3 linked regions of the Homo sapiens genome follow. The protein of the gene in region 1 binds, or shares a complex with, the protein of each later gene. Each region holds a gene or a part of one and is shown in the gene's direction. Other genes may lie near its edges.

Evidence for each region.
Region 2: the proteins of PIN1 (region 1) and SMAD2 are in contact, whole or in part, in an NMR structure (PDB 2LB3), measured with the Homo sapiens proteins. Residues at the interface, in NP_006212.1 of Homo sapiens: Glu12, Arg14, Met15, Ser16, Arg17, Ser18, Tyr23 (codon at 579), Phe25 (codon at 585), Trp34 (codon at 612); in NP_001003652.1 of Homo sapiens: Pro218, Glu219, Thr220, Pro221, Pro222, Gly224.
Region 3: the proteins of PIN1 (region 1) and MAPT are in contact, whole or in part, in an NMR structure (PDB 1I8H), measured with the Homo sapiens proteins. Residues at the interface, in NP_006212.1 of Homo sapiens: Arg17, Val22 (codon at 576), Ser32 (codon at 606), Gln33 (codon at 609), Trp34 (codon at 612); in NP_058519.3 of Homo sapiens: Val546, Arg547, Thr548, Pro549, Pro550, Lys551, Ser552, Pro553.

Annotation. Positions count from the first base shown.
Region 1 is NC_000019.10:9,837,866-9,845,385, forward strand, and holds part of PIN1 (peptidyl-prolyl cis-trans isomerase NIMA-interacting 1), read left to right. Parts: intron 1-146; coding exon of another isoform or gene 147-210; intron 211-570; coding exon 571-783; intron 784-7,520. UniProt on the Homo sapiens protein: Peptidyl-prolyl cis/trans isomerase (PPIase) that binds to and isomerizes specific phosphorylated Ser/Thr-Pro (pSer/Thr-Pro) motifs.
Region 2 is NC_000018.10:47,927,376-47,935,697, reverse strand, and holds the start of SMAD2 (mothers against decapentaplegic homolog 2), read left to right. Parts: upstream 1-5,038; 5' UTR 5,039-5,337; intron 5,338-8,322. UniProt on the Homo sapiens protein: Receptor-regulated SMAD (R-SMAD) that is an intracellular signal transducer and transcriptional modulator activated by TGF-beta (transforming growth factor) and activin type 1 receptor kinases.
Region 3 is NC_000017.11:45,897,087-45,904,606, forward strand, and holds part of MAPT (microtubule-associated protein tau), read left to right. Parts: exon of another isoform or gene 1-1,712; intron 1,713-7,520. UniProt on the Homo sapiens protein: Promotes microtubule assembly and stability, and might be involved in the establishment and maintenance of neuronal polarity.

The DNA of each region.
Region 1 (7,520 bases):
TCAGGTGATCCACCCCACCTTGGCCTCCCAAAGTGCTGGGATTACAGGTGAGAGCCACCGTGCTTAGCCCTTTTAAAAATGTTTAAAAATTATTATTTAGTCCTTTCAATGACCCTAAGGTAGGAACTGTTATCTCCATTTTGCAGGTGAGAACACCAAGGCCCAGGGAAGATATATCACATTTGAACCCAGATTCAGATTTGAATCCAGGTGGCCTGGCTGCTGAGTGCATGGTTTGAGTCACTCCCTGTCCCCCAGCTTCCTCTGTTCCATCACTCTGGGTTATTTTCCTCCTTGAAGTTATCAGGGATTGATACTATCCTGTGTTTCATTTGCTTGTTTAGCACCTGTCTGCTCTCACCTAGAATGTTAGCTCTCTAAGGGCAGGGACTGTATCCTGCCACATTGGCCCACGTCTGGAGAGCCTGTGGCACATGGTGGATACACCATGGATTTGTTGAATGAAGGCGCCCCCTGCAAGCCAGGCCCTCACCCTGGCTTCTGGCTGTGGGCCCAGGGGTGTCCTGGGAGCACAACCCTAGCTGAATTCCTGCCTGCCCTCCCCTCCAGGCCGAGTGTACTACTTCAACCACATCACTAACGCCAGCCAGTGGGAGCGGCCCAGCGGCAACAGCAGCAGTGGTGGCAAAAACGGGCAGGGGGAGCCTGCCAGGGTCCGCTGCTCGCACCTGCTGGTGAAGCACAGCCAGTCACGGCGGCCCTCGTCCTGGCGGCAGGAGAAGATCACCCGGACCAAGGAGGAGGCCCTGGAGCTGATCAACGGTGAGCAGGGCGAGGGCAGGGGCTTGGGAGGGGGTCTTCTCCCAGGTGAGCCTTTGTAGAAGTCACATCAGACCCTTCACCCCAGCTTGCTCAGCTGCCAGGCGTGGTGTTGGCCAACACAAAAACGCCAGTGCATGACCTGACCCTGACCTTCACAGCAGCCATTCTCTTTCTTTTCCATCTGGCATTTGAGGGTGAGCCAGGTAGGGGCAGAGGACCCAGCCTGGGGGCTGGCAGACATGGGTTCAGGTAGTAGCTGTGCCTCTGTGAACTCTGTGACCTTTGGGAGGGGACTCGTGTCACCTCCCCTAGACTCAGCTTTCTCTGTAAAATGGGCATCCTCTAAGGACCATTGTGAAGGTTCAAGGGAATAAGGCAATGGATTTTGCACAGTAGGCCCTCAGTCTGTGGGAAGTGTTGTCAATAGTAATATCATCCACTAGGGGCCTGAGTCATAAACATAGGTGGATCCAGAGAGAGCAGTCAGGAAGGTAGTGAGTGCATGCAGGGTGCGGTGGCTCACGCCTGTAATCCCAGCACTTTGGGAGGCCTTGGAGGGCAGATCACCTGAGGTCAGGAGTTCAAGATTAGCCTGGGCAGTATGGTGAAACTCCATCTCTACTAAAAATACAAAGATTAGCCAGATGTGTTGACGCATGCCTGTAATCCCAGCTACTCGGGAGGCTGAGGCAGGGAGGCAGAGGTTGCAGTGAGCCGAGATCGCACCACTCCACTCCAGCCTGGGCAGCAAAGTGAGGCACCATCTCAAAAAAAAAAAAAAAAAAGAGGTAGTGAGTGCCAGTAGATAGTGAGTTAATTCTGACCTAAGGGAGGAAGCTATTCCCTGCTCTGTTCTGTGTTTCCTCTGCAGTCTGGCACCAAGGTGGCAAACTTTAAAGGCCAGATGGTAAATATTTTAGGTTTTGTGGGCCATGCAGTCTCTATCAGCTCTGCTTTGTAACTGGATAGCACTCATAACTAATATGTAAGCAAGCACATGGTCATGGCTGTGTGCCAAGAAAACTTTACTATTTACAAAATCTGGGAGGATTTGGCCTGCAGGCCATCATTTGCAGAGCCCTGTCTAAAGCTGTCCAGTTTGGCTGCCACTCCCACCCTGTGCGGGAGGATCACTTGAGCCCAGGAGTTTGAGACCAGCTTGGGCAACATAGCAAAACCCCGTCTCTAAAAAAATAAAAAAATTAGCTGGACATGGTGGTGCACGCCTGTAGTGTCAGCTACTTAGAAGACTGAGGTGGGAGGATCCTTTGAGCCCAGGAGGCAGAGGTTGTAATGAGCCGAGATCACACTACCGCACTCCAGCCTGGGTGACAGAGCAAGACCCTGTCTCAAAAATAAATAAGATAATATCAAAAATTGGTTTCTCAATTGCACTGGTCATACTTTAGCTGGTGGCTGCCATCTTTGACAGCGGGAATATAAAACATTTACATTCTTGGCCGGGCGCGGTGGCTCACGTCTGTAATTCCAGCACTTTGGGAGGCCAAGGTGGGTGGATCACGAAGTCAGGAGATCGAGACCATCCTGGCTAACACGGTGAAACCCTGTCTTTACTGAAAATCCAAAAAAATTAGTCTGGCATGGTGGCGGGCACCTGTAGTCCCAGCTACTCGGGAGATAGGCAGGAGAATGGCATGAACCCGGGAGGTGGAGCTTGCAGTGAGCTGAGATCGTGCCACTGCACTCCAGCCTCGGCAACAGAGCGAGACTCCGTCTCAAAAAAACAAAAACAAAAACAAAAAAAAACACTTTTCCATTCTTGCAGTAAGTTGTGTCTGATGCCTTTCTCAGAGTCCCCAAACCTGGGCTGTCCCTACTCCAAACAACCCATCTCTCAACCATGCCCAGACAGCCTGGGTTGCTATGCAGCTCTGCCACGTCCTGGCTATGTGCTCTTGAGCAAGTTACTTAACATCTCTGGGCTTCAATCTTTTTCTCCTTCTTCTTTTGAGACAGGGTCTTGCTCTGTCACCCAGGCTGGAGTGCAGTGTTCATAGCTCACTGCAGCCTCAACCTCCTTGGGATCAGGTGATCCTCCCACCTCAGCCTCCCAAGTAGCTGGGACTGCAGGCTCATAACACCACACCTGGCTGATTTTTGTATTTTTAGTAGAGACAGGACTTCACCATGTTGCCTAGGATGGTCTCAAACTCCTGGCCTCAAGTGATCCTTCCACCTCAGCCTCCCGAAGTGTTGGGATGACAAGCATGAACCACCGCCCCCAGCTGTCAGTCTTTTTCATTTATAAAATTAGTATTAGAATAATAAGACCCACTTCACAGGGTAGTTGTGAGGACTCCTGGCTAATACAGTAAAGCGGGAGTAACAGCTCCTGGCATCGGTAAATGTTCTGTCATTGTTAGTGGTCACTGTCATTGCTGTTGTTGGTTGTGGTAGCACAGGGCCCAGCACAGAGTGTACACTCGGTCAGTATTGGCTGTTGTTTTACTCTCTCATCACTTGGTCCAGTTGGCCTGTAGGATGTTATTACATATGCACACCCCCAACATGGCATCTAGGACAGTAAGTGCCACCCGTTAGTCTTATATGTAAGCATGGCAGAGAGAAGCCGAGTTCTTGCACAGAATCTTGAAGGCTGATTGAAGAGCCAGCCTCCTGACCTCTGAGGGCAGGGACTGGATCTCTCTCTTTCCCCTGTATTCCCATCCTGCCACACAAAGCCTGGCCCAGAGTCAGCCCTCACAGCCTTGTTTCATGAGCCAGTAGGAAGCAAGAAGGATTCCTGGCACAGGACGGGGCAGAAGTAAAGGCCTAGGACTAGGATGTAGCCAGAACTCTGGGGAAGGCTTTGCAGGGAGCTAGGGGGTGATGAGACCCTTCACGGGCAGGTCCCAGCCAGGTTGAGGAGGGTCCTTGTCAGGTGAGGAGGTTTGGTTCTTTCCTGGAGGCAGCAGGACATATGTGGCCATGTGGGACCAGGAGAGGAACCCACAGTGCTCTGCTTTCAGCAGAGATCTGTGAAGCTAGAATGTCAAGGGCCAGGGAAGTGGAAGGCCCAGAACCTTCAGGGGTTCTGGTTGCCCCAGAGCAAGAAGAAGAAGTGGAGGGAGAAGCCAGGAGAGAATTGCAAGATGACCCTTCAGGTCCTCCCAGCTCTAGTGGTCTCTGTTCTGAGGCTTCCGGACCCTATAAGAGTGAGCAGGAGGGTGCAGGCATTTGGGGATGGAGCGGCATGAAGTGGGCTCCTGGGGGTCAGCAGAGCAGCCAGGCGCAGGACAGAGCTGCTCCAAGCAATCCTGATGAGAGCTGGCAGAAGGCTGAGGTCGGTGGGGATAGTGAGGAGGGCATGGGTCTGGGTGTGGTGGGCGAGGGTGTCTCGCCCATCTCTGGGTTGGACAGGTGCACCTGGTAAGTAGCCAGGCCCTGAGGCGTCACCGTAGGTACCTGCAGATTCTGGAATGTCAGCAGGAGCCTTGCCTGCCCACCTGGTGGAAGCTGTGGGAGGAATTGGAGCAAGAGGCGGTGTGACTTGAACTTGGGGGCTGGAAGTGGAAGAAGAAGTGAGAGGGAGCAGACCCGAGAGAGATTCAGGAGGCAGGATAGAGAGGACTGGGTGATGGATTAGGTGGGCAAGGGTGGGATGTCTGGGGGAGGGTCAGGGCAGAACAGCGTGGCCCACCCTGGGCTCGTACAGGGCTGGATTTCAGTGCCAGCTGTGTGGTCTTCATTTCCTGAGCCTCAGTTGCCTCATCTGTAGAATGGGGAGAGGGTGGCTATGAGGATCCAGGAGCTATGGGCTCAGTGGCTGGCGTGCTCTGCACGGTGGAGCCTCAGCCCCAGTCATTGGGGTGTGGACGATGGGGGAGCTGAGGTCAAGTCAAGGCCTCTGCTCACGGGCAGCCCCTGCTGCCACCCCACAGCCCGTAGAAAGAGTTCCGGATAGGACCACAGGAGGCCTGGTGGGCTCAGCACACAGATGATGACCTTGGCACACGACCTCCCTCTCCTGGTATCCTCCTGCCTGAGACGGTGCTGGGGCAGATCTCCTCAGAGGTCGATAGGAGGATGCAGTGAGGTGGCCCCGGCCGAGGTACACTCGGTAACAGATCATCATGTGCAGTGTCGGCGCAGGCATTGGGCACCTGGGCCTCATTTTCTCTTCCATGAAGTGGATGTTCTCCCCTCGAGGGTTCATGCCGGGTGATCAGGAGACCATGATTTGGGCAGCTCACTCCCCAGCTGGCAGCCGGGCTAAATCTCATCAGTGCCCATTTAGATCTGGTGCTCCGCCCTTGCCCCGAAGGGACAGGCTGCCTGCAGAGAGAGCCGGGACCTCCACATTTTCTGCTGAGGCTCCTTTTCCCAGCATTGGCTCCTCTGCAGCTGCTGGGCCACAGCCAGAGGCTGTCAGAGATCCAAGGGAGTCATTGCCAGTGTCCTTGTCTAAGGAGGATGGGCCATGGAGAAGCCCTCCCTGCCCGCTCTCCACCCAGATCTGTTGACAGCCACCCCTCACATGCCCAGGGCCTGGAGGGTCCCAGCAAGGCTGAGACTATGAGCAGCTGTCCTACTCACATACCCATCCCAGCATCCAGGTCAGCCCCTTTGTCCTGGGGTCCTCAAGGTCACTGGCGCCCTTCCAGCCTGCTGGCCTTGGGCCAGCCTCTAGCCCCTCCTTCTGGATCTTGGTCTTCTCAGATCTGACCCTGTCACCTCTTTCCCCGACCAGGCCCCTTCCCCTCTGGTGCCTGGGCAGCCTGGGGGAAGTATGCTGGAAGCAGCGTAATGATCTGGCAAGGCAGAGGAGACAGCACGTCTTGAAACATTTTTGGGGTCAAGGACTACCCCATTTGTTCCCTCACTCCCACCTAGGTCACTGATGTGCATTAGCTTGGACTGTTGTAACAAAATATCACAGACAGTGTGGCTTAAACAACAGTCATCACTTTCCACAGTTCTGGAGGCCAGAAGTCCACAATCCAGGTTCCCTCAGATTCTGTTCCTGGCGAGAACCCACTTCCTGGCTTGTAGACGGCTGCCCTCTCACTGTGCACTCACATGGCATTCCCCAGGCGCATGTGCACGGAGTGAAGGAGCACGAGCTCTCTGGTGTCTCTTATAAGGACACTAATCCTGGCCAGGCGCAGTGGCTCATGCCTGTAATCCCAGCACTTTGGGAGACTGAGGTGGGTGGATCACCTGAGGTCAGGAATTCAAGACCAGCCTGGCCAACATGGTAAAACTCCATCTCTACTAAAAATACTAAAAAAAAAGCCAGATGTAGTGGCGCACACCTGTGATCCCAGCTACTCAGGAGGCTGAGGCAGGAGGATCGCTGGAACCTGGGAGGCAGAGGTCACAGTGAGCCGAGATTGTACCACTGCACTCCAGCCTGGGTGACAGAGCCAGATTCTGCCTCAAAAAAAAAAGGGGCGCTAATCCTGTTGGATCAGGGCCCCACCCTTATGACCTCATTTAACCCTAGTTACTTCCCCAAAGTCCCCATCTCCAGATGCAGCCACACTGGAGGTTAGGGCTTTAACACATGAATTTGGGGTGACACAAACATTGAGTCCATAACGGATGGGCAGCTTGGATCTGTCAGGGGCCTGCTCTGCAACAGCCACTGCTTAAGCGGTCACTGATTCACTCCTTGGAACAGGCTCCAACGTGGGAGCAGCGGTTACCCCATTTTACAGGCCAGTTGAGTGAGGCTCCAAGAGGTAAAGTCACCTGCCAGACTCTCATTGTTCAGGAGCAGCAGAGGTAGGATCTGGACCTGATGGAGTCTGGAGTCAGCACCCATAACATGTCCTCCTGGACCTTGGGGATACACTGTGAGCAGGCTGGCTGGGGTCTGCCAGCACAGATAGGTGCCATTCTGTTTTGCATACTATTTCAGGGGGTCCTGAACACCTTGAAGCAGGTGGAGGCCCCTGCTCCAGACTGGGAGCTCCTGGAGAGGCCACCCTGTGTCTGTGTGGTTCTAAGCTGGAGCCACATCGAATCAGGATGGGGCTCCAGCACCCGACAGTCCCCATCAAATTTCACAGGTTTTGGCGCCGTCGGGCAAGGCTGACACATTGTCTTGGAGGAGGCCCAGGAAGTCTGGCCTTAGGGTCGCAGCCTGAGTTTCAGGCAGATAGGGCATGAGATTCCAGCATTTCTGCTTCGAGCCCCGTGGTAGATCCCTGTCTCCCTCCTTCCCCATGGCCTATTTCTGTCTCATTTATTCATTAACTTCTTGAACATTCGTGAACACCTGTTTTGTGCACAGTGCTGGGTTCTGAGGGTGCAGCAATGAAGAAGGCCAACCCAGCAGCCTCCATTCCTGCACTGTGAGGCGGGCAAGCAACACACCAATGGGACGGTAGTAAATGCAGCACCCAGGGGGAGGCACCTAACACAGTGGGGGATTAGGGGAGGCTTCTTGGGGAGACCAGAGGATAGCTGATGAGTTTCAGGCAGGACAAGAGGCTTAAACCAAGGTCTGCGAGGTGGGAGTCGGAGGATGTCATTGTCGCGGGGTCAGGTACAGGCTGAGCTAACAAGACACACAGGACCAAACCCCTCAAGGTCAGCCTCACAGAGCAGGAACTCAGGAAGAAAGCGTTTTTGTTTGTTTGTTTGTTTGTTTGTTTGTTTGTTTGAAATGGAGTTTCGCTCTTGTTGCCCACGCTGGAGTGCAGTGGCAACGATCTCAGCTCACTGTACCTTCTACCTCCCAGTTTCAAGAGAAAGCGTTTTTTTGTTTG
Region 2 (8,322 bases), on another chromosome or scaffold:
AGCTCTTCAGTCTTCATCACAGCAATTATGCTAATAAGCTTGAAATTTTCCAAGAGTATTAAACCTTCATACACTTATCCTGCCTAGCAGCAGCCTGGCTCAGTCAATATTGTCACCCACAGACAATTATAATGAAAGCATAAGGCCCAATTGTTGGCATGTGACTACCAAATAATCTCCCCTCACAACAGAACTTCAAACAATTTGTATATTGTTCTTTCAGGGTTTAGACACTGGCCTTTGTTATTCTTTTCTCAAAATATGTACATCTCAGATATTTAAATGCCTTTATGGGAGAGCTCATTGCATTGGAATTGTATTGTAATTTTCCAAATAATATTTGAACAGTCACTGAGTTATCCAATGATCTATTCATCTAATCATTATTTATCCATTTAAGTGTAGAGATAAGAAATATAATAGTAAGATGCCTGGAGAATGATGAGAAATATAATTTGTTTTGCCATATATTTTTGTCTTTATCCGAGCCAACTTCTCTTTTAATCTCTTTCTCTCTTTAATTATAAAAAATCCTGTCTTATTTTTTTTGAGTGACTTTGGCCAAAGAGTGAGAATTTTCCACTATGATCAACCAATGCTTCTGTGGTAGGTGCATGACAGACACCTGATGAACACTTGTTACATTTGAAGTTTTTTTCTCATATATGCCTTATTCCTGTCTCCTGCATTTCCTATCAGATGTGAAATACTATTTCTTTTTAGCAAAAACTAACATGAATAAGGATTGTGTGTTGGGGGGGGCGCATATGTTCAAATCTGCAACATAAATTCATTTGGAACCTGAAATTTCATTGTATCAATATAAATATCTAGCTGGTGTTGGATTTCTTCCTTATTATTTACAATAAAAGTAAGCCCATGCATTTGTTCTTTAAAATTTTTACTTATCTCATTTAATCAGGGTCCTCTCAGTTGCAAATAACTGGATCTTTCCTTAAGATGTAGTAATGCTCACTGCAATTTAATCCCACTAGGATGAGCAAATGATGTTGAAAAGAGACCCAACAGTTGTATGGAGGGCCACTATAAACCGGAAGAATGGGCGCAAAGCTGTGTAGAATGTTTGCAGATCTGTGACATGTTTTTCTTTTATACAAATGCTGTATTTCATCTTTCTTCAATTACTTAGTATTTTGGTAAGGGTAGGGGAAGACAAGTGAAAATAAGTTGTCCTTGTCCTTCAGGAACTTACAATCTAGATGGGGAGACAATATATATACACAGGAGAAGCTGGAAAAAAAAACTGCTCAAGACTAAATGAATGGTATGTATATCATCGTAAGTATAAGAGAGAAAATTCATATGTGAATGGTATAGCTTTGGGCTGGGGAAGCCAGAAAGGGCTTTAAAGATTTACCAGAAGGGGAGAATATGAGTTGTTTTTTGAAAGATCATGACTGTGTGTGTGTGGTGTGTGTGTGTGTGTGTCTTTGTATGTATGGATAGAGAGTTCAATGAATAAATGAGGGTACTGAAGCTCTATACAGAGCTTCCAAGGATGAGCAGAGGTTGGTCAGGCACCATAGGGCAAGTGCTTTCTAGCAGAACAAAGAGCACAGCATAGGCACTGGGGAACGAGAGAACATGGTGATTAGGGAAACTGTCAGGAGTTCATTCTGGCTGGGGAAAAGGGAGCAAGGTGGGGAGTGTTGAGATGTGACACTACAGAGACTGGCCTGGGATGGATCATTAAGGATCTTTTAGGTTATGCTAAACAGTCTTGATTTTACCCTGGGGAAAAAAAAACTGGAAGAAGGAAACTATCAATCAAGGTAGTGATATCAGATTTACATTTAGAAAATATGCTATTAAAAAAAATTCTGGCAGCAGGAAGGAGGATGAATTGGAAGGCAGCAAGAGTGGAGGCAAGAAGACCAGCTGAGGAGCTAAAGCAGTACTTCCAATGAAAGACAATGAAGTCTGAACCAAGGCAGTGAGCTTTTTCAAAAAAATCAAACTACAGAAGAAATAATGATGAAATTTAAATTTTCCACTTATGACCCTCAGGCTCTTTCCAGAAGCAACCACCATTATCATTTTTCTTTCGTGTCTTTCCAGTGCACTTAACTACTTTTGAATTGGATTCTGAATTGATTTGGATGTAATTGATTTTGCAGTGTCATGTTTAATGAAGGGTTAAACTTGGTCTCTATCCATATAAAAATAAGACTCATTCAATCTAATTTATACAATAGGGACCTACTGATAGATCTTGAGGTACCCTAGTGGATTTCCAAGCTGTTTGTTGCCATAGCAATCCCTGCTCTATGTGCCTTCAGTTTCTGTCTTGACCCACTTTGGTTTAGATGCATTTCTAGCAGAGGGGACAGTAGGCATGCTCCCATTTCTAAGCCCCTTGGGGACTGCATTGGTAGCCAGATTGTCCCTTCTCCCTCTTCCTCAATTGTAGATCCTGGAAGGCTTCCTAAATGGAAGAGTTATGGACCCAAAGTCTGAGACTTTGGAGAAATGGTCTAACTTAGACCTCAGGCGTACTACCCACTTAATTAATGTAACCTCAAAGTACCTAACTTCCATACTAGGAGCACATTCTGGAATCCCAGCCAGGCCTGCTTTGGTTCCTATTTCTACTACTCAGGTGGACACCCAAATCCACACCCTGTTCACACAGGAGAAAATACTTGTGTGACCAGGGTAGCTTTTAATATGCTACTTCATATTACAACTGTTGACTTGTATTAGCAGGAAGACAGACCAAAAACAAGAAACAGCCTTCCTACTTGTAAGTTGAACAGCCTTTGCCCTGGACCGTCCTCCCTAGTGGCTCTGGAAAGAGGAAACAAGGCAGAGGAGGTGGGACAGCTCCACCAAATGGCTTCCTGGGTGTCCTTCACAAACTTTTTTATTTTTATTAAGGGGTTAGTAGAGCTGCCTCTAAACTAACAATGGAAGAAACCACCCTGGAAGGGAATTTTTGGAGGAAGAATTTCTGCTGAGTAGGTTCGTCTCAGCATAAATGTTCGCACGCAACAGAAGAGAAGTTAATGATCACTGACTTTCCTTGAACTTCAAAGCCCTATGTTATTTACTTTCATATTTATTATTTAATCATCACACAACTATATTTAAGTAGGTATCGTTGCAGGTGAGTTCCATTTGCCAAAGATTACAGATCTGGAACAGAGTCGTACTCAAAGCTACAACGTGCCTGACTCCTGGGTTTATGCTCTTCATCGCAACCTTCCCGTGAGAAAAGTTCCTCTATGTGTGAGGACAGAGACGGTGGAAAGGACAGAGATTTTGAAAGGACATCTGGAAAACTTGTATGACTCAGGGGATGGCCACATCTCTCTTAAGGTCCATCTGAAGGCACCCTCCTCTGGGACACGTTCATTTCTCAGAAGAAAGCGTATACTTCAAAAACTCTTACTGTTTGGAGTGCTCATTTGGTACTTCCTGATTACCGATTTGTATTGCTAGTGCTTCTTTCCCGCTTATTTGAAGTCCCCAATTAAATCTATAAACTAAGCCACACATGAGAATGAATTACTGGACAGGCAGCCAAAAAAAAACTGTGTTCTAGTCTTGTCTCTGGCACCTGTGTGAAACCTAAGTTTCTTTTCAACTTTAGTTCTACGGTACTCCCTGCCTGTGTCACAGTGGGTGCATAGTAAACACCTGATGTGATTAGTTGGGCTCAATATTTTGTCAGCAGAGGCTTGGGTGTTCCTAAGGGTAACCGCAACAAGGTTTTCCCTGGGTGCAGTTATGTTCTGGGCAGCCGTAAGTTTAGGGCCTTGCTGCCTCCTGTAGGGCAGATGTGCAAGTTGGGGCCTAATCGTCGCAACAGTGGAGAAAAGGGGAAGGGAAGATATCCCAGCCATTAAGGGACATCGTGACAGATGTTTCTTTTAGACTTCACAAAGACCCTTCGGGACATGGATTATTGATATCATTTTTACTGAAGACGGAACCAAAATTTAGGTTAAACACTTATACCTGGCATCCCCTACCCGGGCCCTAAGTGCTCTCCAAAGACCCCACCTCTGGGCTTATTTACATCGCGAACCCGCCCTCGTTCAGCAACACGAGGGCCCCGCCCGCTCATTTGCATAGGGCGCGCCCAGTCACGGGCCGGGTCCTCGGGCTTCTCCCGAACCCCTTTTCTCTCTCAGGCGCGTCCTCCGCGCTGCGCGGGGCCTCCCCGTGGGATGAGCACGTGTCCGCTGCCGGCCTCACGACGGACGGTGGACGAGGCGGCAGGCCCCTACAGGCCCCACCCACGACGCTGGCGAGGGATCGGGCGGTCACCGGGAATCGTCTTAATGCGCGGCAAGGCGCGGGCCTCTCCCTCTCCGCCCGTGAGCCCCGGTGGGAGCGCGCCGGCGCCCAACTCAAGCGAAACCGCGGGCGTCCCGCCCCGCCCGGCCGCGCCCCGCCTCGCCTCACGCTAGACTGGGGAGGCGGGACCAATCAGCGAGCGACGTCTCCCTTCCGATTCGAGGCCCCCGATGCGCGGCTCACACCCCGAGCTTCCCTCGTGCTGATTGGCTGCGGGCGCCGCCGGTCCGGCCGGGAGGCGGGGCGGGCCGTAGGCAAAGGGAGGTGGGGAGGCGGTGGCCGGCGACTCCCCGCGCCCCGCTCGCCCCCCGGCCCTTCCCGCGGTGCTCGGCCTCGTTCCTTTCCTCCTCCGCTCCCTCCGTCTTCCATACCCGCCCCGCGCGGCTTTCGGCCGGCGTGCCTCGCGCCCTAACGGGCGGCTGGAGGCGCCAATCAGCGGGCGGCAGGGTGCCAGCCCCGGGGCTGCGCCGGCGAATCGGCGGGGCCCGCGGCCCAGGGTGGCAGGCGGGTCTACCCGCGCGGCCGCGGCGGCGGAGAAGCAGCTCGCCAGCCAGCAGCCCGCCAGCCGCCGGGAGGTGGGTGCGTGGCGCCGCGGCGGCCGGCGGCCGAGGGCGGAGGGCGGAAGCGGAGGTGGGCTGGCGGGGGAGGGCGCGGCCGTGCGGGCGGCCGGTAGGGCTGCGGGCGCGCGCCTGAGGGGAGGAGGGGCAGCGCGGGCGCGCGCGTCCTCACCCCCTCCTTCCCCGCGGGCGGCGGCCAGGCTCCCTCCCCTCCCCTTCCCTCTCCTCCCCTCCCCTCCCCTCTCTTCCCCTACCCTCCCGCGCGCCCGGGCCGCCGGCCGGGCCCGGGCCTGGGGGCGGGGCGGGAAGACGGCGGCCGGGAGTGTTTTCAGTTCCGCCTCCAATCGCCCATTCCCCTCTTCCCCTCCCAGCCCCCTCCATCCCATCGGAAGAGGAAGGAACAAAAGGTCCCGGACCCCCCGGATCTGACGGGGCGGGACCTGGCGCCACCTTGCAGGTAAAGCCTGGGCGCCCGCGGGCCTCCAGCTAGGGAAGTGTTTGCGTGCGTCCGCGGCCGGGGCGATGGGCCGTGTCACATGGCCGCTGCGGGTGGGGGCTGGGGTGTGGTGAGTTCGGGGGCTGTGGGTGCGCCGGCCCGGGCGTGCGGGTTCGGGGCCGGAGAGCCGGGAAGGGACGGGGCTCGGTTGCACTGCGCTGCCGCCCAGGCTGACGGGGGCGGGGGCTGCCTGCGTCCCTTCCCCTCGCTGCTCTCACACTCCATAGTTTGTGGTTCTGATTTTTAAAGCCGAAGGGCCAGAGCTCTTGTTTCAGGAGTTGTGGGGAAGCCTTGTTAGGGACGCGTAATACTTTGCCTCCACTTTTTTTTTTTGGTCTCGTAACCTTTGTTAACAGTGGTAGTCTCGGGTTTTCCATGGCTTGTGTGTACTCACAAACACGCACACAGCTGATAACTCTGTGATCATCCTTCACTCACTTGTGAAAGTTGTTCTGCGGGTGGAGCCTATTAGTTTTTATCACACGCCTTTGGAAAGCCCTCGAAGTGATTTCTCGTATTTCAAACTTGGTTTTTAAAATTGCAACTTACTTTGTTCTCTTGGAGGGGGATATTGTCTTTGGGTCAGGTACTTTTGTCTTTTACTTATCCTTAAAATGTCCTTTTGATCCTAAACAGAAAAAGAATGCCTGGGTTGGTTTTGTTATTCCTTTCTCTTGACCCTTTAAAAGCAAAATACCACCAGTGTGTTGTCAACCATACCTTTAAAAAAGAAATTTCCAGGTAAAACGAATTTGCAAGCAGCATTTTCCATCAAAGTCATGTCTTGTTTGTTGCAATTTGGACTATCTTAAATTTGGGTTTGTGAAACTTTTAAAACGACATGTGTAAAATAATTGTTAATAAATAAATAACTTGGAATAATTACATCTTTTTAGAAATGGTCTTTGAAATGTGATTTAATTTCCAAAATTCTTTTTCTCTCTTCTGACTTCATATGAATTGAACCTGATAGTTTCGTATGAATGAATCGCTGATAGGATGTTTTCCTTGAGCCTAGTAATAAATTTGCTCTTATTATGCTGAAAATTTGCTATTCTACTTTAACACCCTTTAAAAAGTTTCCATCTTACAGAGAAGTTAGTCAAATAGTTAAATGGAGTTTCAACAGTTTTAATACATGAATTAGTGAAGCAGATGAAGCAGAGATGGGAGAAGTAATTTAAAATGGGCTTCATAAATGTACCATAGTTTGAGGGTATTTAAAAAATTTGCCTTCGGAAAACCCATACAAGATATTTAAAGAATTTCCTCTGCCAGAAGGTCATTTAGCAAACGTTTATATTAAATTCAAAAGTAATACTTTTATTTTTAAAGTTCCTTAGCCGTTGCCGTAAACTTAGCTGTCGTAGTAAATATAAATAGTTCACATCTTTCGGCATTTCTAAAGAGTGTGCCCACTTTTACTATAAATATTAAACTCTGCTGGATTTAATTGAGTTCAAGGCTGTTCACTGGCCAGGTTTAATTAATGTAATGTGATTGGAAACGTTCATTTTGGGGTTTTAGTAAGAAATTGCTCTTAGAGCTTGGTTTTTATACTTAGCCACACCTTCTAAAGTGCGGCCACAAGCATTGTAGGTGTTCAACAAAAGTTTGGGTTTTCAAGGTTGTAACCTACGTTTACTTAGTCATAAGTGGTCATGTCTCTACACAGTCTGTAAGTTTCATGAAATAATAGTCTTTTAAGAAACTGTGCAGGGTAATTTCCTGTTGTTTGTGTCTTATCAGGCTTGGTATGTGTTTTAACTCTTGTGTAGGAATATTGGGGATGGTTTTGGTATTTCAACAGAACTTTAGTAGGAACAAAGGTTGTTTCTATTCTACTTCAAGATGGCCAGAGGTTGTTGTCCCCTTTTCATTTTCACATTGTAAATATTAGAATCATGTTGCTATAATCTTTACTTCACATTTGGGGGAATATATGTCAATGGAAAAACTCGGTTTAGCTGTGTAAACCGCTGGCCAAAGACCTATTGAATTTTTACATTTTGCAAATACTGTCAGTTTTAAAAGTCTTTCCTTGTTCTTGTTTGGTTTTGATTCTGTTGGTTTTGTGCTTTAGGGCTCCAAAAACCTCGTTTTGTAGCAGCTTTTTTATACAGGTGTTTTTGTAATGCATATAAAAGCTGTATTTAGTGCAGTCTGGCAGATGGAGATTTATTCATATTCTTAGGACAAAGAGTCATTTTTAGAGGGTAGAGGGGGGCATGTCTTTTAGATTCTTAGTCTTTTGATGGGTGTAGAAGAGCCATTTTTAGGCCCTTAGTTTCTGTGAGAGGTAAGATGTTTTCCCCTAAGTATTCCAAAGGTATGTCAGAAAATGTGAAACGTAAGGAATTCACAACCAGTTAAGAGAGGTTATGAGAGATTATGCATTTATATATTTTATTTTATTTTATTTTGAGACGGAGTTCACTCTTGTTGCCCAGGCTGGAGTGCAATGGCACGATCTCGGCTCACCGCAACCTCCGCCTCCTGGGTTCAAGCGCTTCTCCTGCCTCAGCCTCCTGAGTAGCTGGGATTACAGGCATGCGCCACCATGCCTGGCTGATTTTGTATTTTTAGTAGAGACGGGGTTTCACCATGTTGGTCAGGCTGGTCTCGAACTCCCGACCTCAGGTGATCCGCCCACCTCGGCCTCCCAAAGTGCTGGGATTACAGGCGTGAGTCACCGCGCCTGGCCGATGCATTTATTTTCAACAAATACATTTATTCATTTATTCAACAAACAGCTTTTTCTGTGTGTCAGGCTCTGGACTAGGCAATAAAGTCTCTTAACAGCAAACAAGTACACCCCTGTTCCTTAATGGAGTTAGAAAAGTGGAAACTCATGTCCCTTGCCCTATTCTCCAGTGTTTAGAGTAAGACAGTTGTTAGTGTACAAATCAAGGGCACATGCATTACTGAGCCATTCCTAAAGTGAGC
Region 3 (7,520 bases), on another chromosome or scaffold:
CCTCGCATGGCTGGGCCCGCCGCGAGGGGTTGCAGAGCGGCTCAGGGATCGATTCAAGCATCGTCTCTCCTCCCTCGCCCCCAGACAGAGCTGGGCGCGGGGTTCCCCTTCCAGATGGAGCGAGGGTCTCGGGGTGGCCCCGGAAAAGGGGAGCCCGCGGCCACGGCTACGTATTGCCATCTCGCGAGCAGAGATGTCACCTCCTGCCTTTGGAGGAAAGGGAGCCCGGTGGGGATGAGCGCATTTAGCCCAATGCTGGGAACAAAGCGCACTCCGCGCTTCTGCGATTTCGCTCCATTTTGAAATGTGTTGGCGCTTTGGTGGGGCCGCTGCGGTGGGCAAGGCCGGGGGCGCTGTTAATGGAGGAACCTCAGGGGGACGGTCCTTCGTAGGAAACTCTATCCTGGCTCTGCGCGCGCTTTAAGGAAATGGCTTCCCTCCAGGACCTCGAGGGATGCAGCTTTTGCGCGGATGACGGTGGGGTGCTGAACCAGCCGGTGCGCCTCTGGAAATGTCTGGGCACGGATCCTGGGGCCATCGACGACTCCTCCCCATTCCCAGCAGGCGGGAGCTCTTACATTCCGAGCGAGTGACCCCTCTCACCCTCTGGCGCTCACACACCTGTAACTCCAAACCTCCGTCTCAGAATGGTCCAGGCTGGAAGGGATGATGGGGGCTCCGACAGCGACTGCCTAGCTCACCCCTCTGCGTGCTCAGGCTCCAGGCTCAGCAGGACCAATTTGAGTTCTATCTGATCCCCCTCGGCCCCTTAACTGACCCATCCTACAGGAGACAGGGAAATGTCTTTCCTACCGCGGTTGATTCTGGGGTGTCATTTTGTGTTTTGTGATGGCTGCTTATATTTACTGTATAAGCATTGTATTTACTGTATAAGCATTGTATTATAATTACTGTATAAGCTGCTTATATTTACTGTATAAGCATCTCCAAATCCTCCCTCTACGTAAACAAATTAATGGATAAACAGATAAGTGTATCCCCTGCCCCCACCCCTGCTACGCAGGTCCGGAGTGACTCTTGAAGCTCATACATTCCTTGGCCAAGTTTGCTTCTCTAACAGATGTTTATATAGCAATAACCTGGCTTGGCTCTTGGGTTCACCTTTGGACGATTTGGGGAAGGGGCTTGTTGGCTTTGCTGGGTTTTGGATGAGTGACAGTCCATGACTGTTCCTGCTGGAAGGGCGTGACTTTTAAGTGGTTTCTAATATCAGGCATTGCTCCTCCGACAGGAACAAAAGAAATGGATACTGCCCATAAATTGTTAGAAAACTTAGAATCGCTTTGATTGAGGAAAGGTTAGATTTATTCCGGTTGGAAAAAGTGGCCTTTCTATTAAACGTGCCCTTTGACCCTCATGCCCTTGGAGGTCGGTGCCAGCCTGGAGATGGGATAAGATTGTGGTTTTCCTTCTGCCTTTTTAACATCTGTTGTTACAGTCCATTTGTTGAAAATTTAAAGAAACTGTTTTATTCCACTTTCCCTCAGCATTTATGTGTGTGGTTTCAGTAGCTCTGTGGCTATATGTACGAACACGTGTTATTTTTCCAATTGGACATGTGATAATTTTCCAACTGGACCTTGCCTTCTATTGATGTATTTATTTAGCATCTTCCTTACTCCCTCCTTGAAAAAGAATCACTCAAAAACAAATAAAAACAGCCGTAGGGGCCTAATACAGTGCTAGACATACAAGAGGTATTCGGTCCATACCAAATGGATTTTATCCATGAAGGATAAATGGGGAAATACAGTGGGAAGCAGGTGGGAAACTGCGTTTGACTCTGCTCTTTCCTCCACCACCACTTTCCTCATCACCGTGTTCAGAGACCCCCAAAGCCCCCTCACACTCCCAGAAACACCCCCCTGGCCACTCCTAACTTGCCATGCCCAGGAGTTAGGTGCTTCCACTAGTGACATGGAGCTGGCGTTTGGGGGGCACCTCAGCAGGTGACGGGAAGAGAAGACCCCAGCCTCACCAGCTGGGCTGCAGCAGGGAGAGGAGTCCTCATGTTCCAGCAGGGACTCTCAGCTGTTTTCCTGTAAAACCATGGTTCTCAACTGGGGGCCACTGAGATGTCTAGAGAGATGTTTTTGTTTTCACAACTCGGGGAGGGTGCTACTGACATCTTGTGGGTAGAGGCCAGGAATGCTGTTAAACATCCTACAAGGAAGGCACAGGACAGTCTCCTACATCAAAATATGACCCAGTCCCAATGTCACCACTGCTGGGGTTGACACTGGCACTGCTATCTTAATTACATTCATTGAGTGTCTTTTAGGAGGCCCTATTCTAAGTGCTTGCTAAGATTATCTCATTTAATCCTCACAACACTTCCGCTATGTAGCAGGTGCTGTTATTATCTCCGTGATGGGGAAACTGAAGCACAGAGAGGGTTAGTAACTTGCTAAAGGTCACAGAGCCAGTGGGTGGTGGAGCTGGTTGCCTGACACTAGTTCCCTCCCCTCTCAGCCACATGTGGGTTTACTTGGCCATTGTGGACTAGTCTGGGAACCCAGATATGATCTATAACATTGACCCAGTAGAATATTGATTCCAAAACCACTGTCTCACAAATGAATTTTTACAAGAGTCTGTAATCGGAGCATGACCCAGAATAAGGTTAGGGAGATGTGGAGTTAAAGCTCTCAATTTCTTATCTGGCCCCGACACAGAGAGCAAGGCATTTCACTCTACATTGGTGCTCTGTTTATAAAACAAAGAGCAAATATCTCTTCCTAAGGTCCTTAAACCTCTTCCCCCAATCCAGGGTTTCTGGACTGCTCTGCCATATGACGGGGCAGCTGGTTTGATTGACCCAGGGAAGGCTGGAAATCAAGACTGGGGGATCAAGACGTAGATTCAGTGTGGCCAAGGTCAAGTCTCTGAGGTTTAGGGACATCAGATCCCCAGCTTAGGTTCTGTACCTCGGCAAGGTGAAAGCGTTGGCGCCCACTGATGAGGCCTGCTCTGAGATTGTGGGTGTGGGTTGAGTTGGGTGGGCATAGGCAAGTCCTCTTGTAAGAATCTTTTGGCAAAGATGGGCCTGGGAGGCTTTTCTCACTTCCTGGGGCCCAGGCTTTGCAATAAGTATTCCATTATACTGTGGTACCTTGGGGCTACCTGAGAATCCTCTGTCTCGCCCCTGTTGCCTTGCCAAAGAGTTTGCTGTCCAAGAATTCCTTTCCTGTCTCCAGGTGCCATGCTCCTGCCACCTCTGCCAGGTTCCCTGCCTGCCCAGATGGCTCCCAACTGAGTGTGAGGAGGAATTTGAGACAGGTTTTGAGCTTTCTGGGTTCTCCAGTTAGGAAACTTTCTGTAAGCATGCAGATAGAATGGGCTTCAGCAAAATACAAACTCGAACAACTTCCATGTATAGTCCCTTAATTTTCTTTGCTTTTTTCATATTTCATCAGGCTCCATGCTGAGCCCAATCAGGGACCCGATAGAAATCCAAACACCATGTCAGCGAGTCCCCAAGAAATGCATTTTGTGCCAAGGCTATTCAAGGAAGGTTTGGGAGCAGCTCAAGGGCAGACACTGTTACCCTCCCCCAGGTCCCCAGTGCAGGGCAGTGTTCTGCATGTGGAGGCAGTTTGGCCTAATGGTTAAGGAGGTAGGCTCTGATCGGGCCTCCTGGGCACAAATCCCAGCTCCCTGCTCACTGTGAGACCTAAGCCATATTGTTTAGCTGCTTGGAGAGTTTTTTGTCATCCACAACTTGGAGTATGATGGTACCTGTCTCACGGGTTGCCATGGGGTTCACACAAGCTAACCCGGTACTCACTAGGGCCAAGCACATAGTAACTGCTCAGTAAATGGCATCATCGGCGGTGTCCTGTGGATGAGTGCTTGTGATTGGCTGAATGACCAGAGGGGTCTAAAGATCCTGGTGATGGAATCAGTTGTACAGATAAATTGTTACACTGAGTAGGGATCAAGATAGGAAAAGTCGGCAACTACCCAGCTCCCCTGCACCAAACTGGGCAGAAGTGGATCCTCTGAAAATTGCACACACCCATGTTTAAATGTACACACAGAACTCTTGCCACAGGCAAGCGGAGATTTGTCATCTGCTGTCCCTGCCTCATCTTCTTCCTGAAATCCACTCCATGCCAGGAATAAACTGCATGCTCTCCACCAGCCCAAACTGACCTGCCTTCCCGCCAGCCATCCCGGGCAGGGTGACCTGGCTTAGTACATCGGGTTCAGAGATCTTTCCAGTTTACTCGTTGAATAAAAAGTGAGGGCTGATCGAGAAAGTAATGGCAGTCAGGGAAGGCGAAGGAGGTAAAGAAGAGATTTTACAAATGAAGTAATTCAACAGAGTGCTGACATTGGTAAACTGGCAAACAGATTTCAGGGTGGTTGGTTGAGAGTAGAGTAGAAAAGGATTAAATAAAGCAAACTTGTGGTGTACTGAATCTTAGGAATTCCATGTATCCAATAAGTATAGTCATTTATGAATTAATAAATTCGGCCTAAGAAGCCTTCTTATCGCTTAAATCAAGACTAAGTAACAATATATCAGTTTTAAAAAGTCATTATATCAGAAAATCATTTAAATGATACACATAGATTTCCAAGATTTTACTTTAACCGAAACTATATAAATGTGAATTTGTTCACCCATCTTTTGACACAGGGCTCAGGTCTTCTCTTGGTGTCTGGATCAGCCAGTTGAAATTTCTTGTCTGTTTTGCCTATGCCACATTAATAATGCACTGTCTGGGTCCTCCGATTTCAGTTTGGATTTTGGGTTTACATTGTGGAGTCATCTGAATGCAGAATCCTTCAGGGATTTTACTTTTTTTTTTTTTTTTCATGGTCTTTACCATCCCATTTGATAGTAAATATTACTCACCTTTATGAAGTCTTTCCAAAACATTCAACTAAATTTTCTTAAAATCATTGAATGATTTGAAGAGCTTATTCCTCAGCACTTTTACTCCATCAGCTTGCACCTTATTTTTTAATCTTTTTTTGAGACGGAGTCTCGCTCTATCGCCCAGGCTTAAGTGCAATGGCGCGATCTTGGCTCACTGCGACCTCCACCTCCTGGGTTCAAGCAATTCCGCCTCAGCCTCCGCCGTAGCCGGGACTACAGGTACACACCATAATGCTCGGCTGATTTTTGTATTTTTGTAGGGATGGGGTATCGCCATGTTGGCCAGGCTGGTCCCGAACTTCTGACCCAAGTGATCCACCCACCTCGGCCTCCCAAAGTGCTGGGATTACAGGTGTGAGCCACCGCGCCCGGCCAGCTTGCACCTTATTTAGGATATGTGATTATTATAGCAAGTCTGGTGTACATACAAGATTTTGAATGGGCACAGATGACCTTTAGTAAGTGCTTGGCTGTGATAAGAGGCAGTCCTGACTGCAGATCAGGCTGTGTGGACCCCAGCCTTGCATGTTTACAGACCTTCATGTCTTATTCTTACAGGGTATCAGAAGAACACCTACTGGGGAAACTTATAAATTAGTAAAAGGTGGGCATTCTCCCCGCCCATCTTCTGTCTGTCTGCCAGGACTAGCACAGCACTTTGAAGTCATTCACATAGAATCCCAACTTAAGAGGGTAAAATCCTCCTCAACAGACTGAAAATAAGTTTAAATTCCCTTTGCTATATTAACTCCCCTGAGGAAAGAGTCTTAGATCAATGTCCAACACTAAAAACAGTTTTAAATCAGCAAGTGAGAATTAAATCTGAAGCAATTGATAATAATGTTTCATTCATTCCTCTCCTTTGGCCCCGTCCACCCTACTGCTAAATCCAGGCATCAAAGAGAAGAGGGACATAATTATCTCTAGTCCCAGCTGCTGGTTTTCCTTCCAGCCTATGGCCCAGTTTTCTGTTTTACTGAGAAGGCTGGTGATGTTATCTTGGGATCTAAGTCTGCAGTTTCACCACAAAAAGTCCAGGGATGCACTTTCATGCTTGTGTCCTCCTCCCTGGGATAGCAAGGATATTAGAAGACCCCTGGCTCTGTAATTGCTTGTCATGTGCTCTACAGACGCCACAGAATGCCAAGAACGAAGTGCTGGGAAGGACAAATTCATGGAACCGTGGGACGGTGCTCCTCCCCCAGCGTAAAGGACAGCTCCTCCTCCTGAATTGGAGCCAGCGTTCTAAATCATGTGTCAACAGAGTTGTCCTGGATCGGATCCAGTTCTGCCATTGATTTGCAGGTCATTTCAGTGGTACCTGTTTCCAGTTGTTCTTAATTGAACAGTGGCACCAAACTATTGTCTTGCCTCATCCCCCTCCCATGGCCTGTCCCCCAAAAAGAGACTTCTTGGGTAATTAATCAGGGCAACATCAGGCAGTCTGGGCGCGGTGGCTCACGCCTGTAATCCCAGCACTTTGGGAGGCCGAGGCGGGCAGATCATGAGGTTAGGAGATTGAGACCATCCTGGCTTTGTGAAACCCCGTCTCTACTAAAAATACAAAAAATTAGCCGGGCGTGGTGGCGGGCGCCTGTAGTCCCAGCTACTCGAGAGGCTGAGGCAGGGGAATGGCGTGAACCCGGGAGGTGGAGGTTGCAGTGAGCCGAGATCGCACCACTGCACTCTAGCCTGGGCGACAGAGCTAGACTTCTTCTCAAAAAAAAAAAAAAAAAGGAATCTCTTTGGTTTTATATATATTTTTTTTATATATATAATATATATTAAAATATAATATATATATTTATATAATATAATATATAAATATATTATATATTATATATTTTATATATTATATATTATATATATTATATATTATATATTTATATATTTATATATTATATATATTTATATATTATATATTTATATATATTATATATTTATATATAATATATATTATATATTATATATTATATATTATATATTATATATTTATATATATTATATATTATATATATTATATATTATATATTTATATATTATATATTTATATATATTATATATTATATATTATATATTTATATATTATATATTTATATATTATATATATTTATATATATTATATATTATATATTATATATGTATATATTATATATGTTATATATTATATATATTTATATATATAATATATTGTATATATTATATATCTAATATATTATATATATTATATATATTATATATTATAATATATATTATATATTATATATTATATATATTTTTATATATATAATATGTATAATATATAATATATATAAAAACATATATAATATATATTATATATTATATATATATTATATATATTATATATATTAAATATATTTTATATATATTATATATATATACACATATATATATATAAATGAGGCCAGGCTCGGTGGCTCACACTTGTAATCCCAGCACTGTGGGAGGATCACTTGAAGCCAGGAGTCTGAGACTAGCCTGGGCAACAAAACAAGATCCTGTCTCTACAAAAGGAAACTGTAAAAATTAGCTGGGCATGATGGCATGTGTCTGTAGCCCTAGCTACTTGGGAGGCCGAAGCAGGAGGATC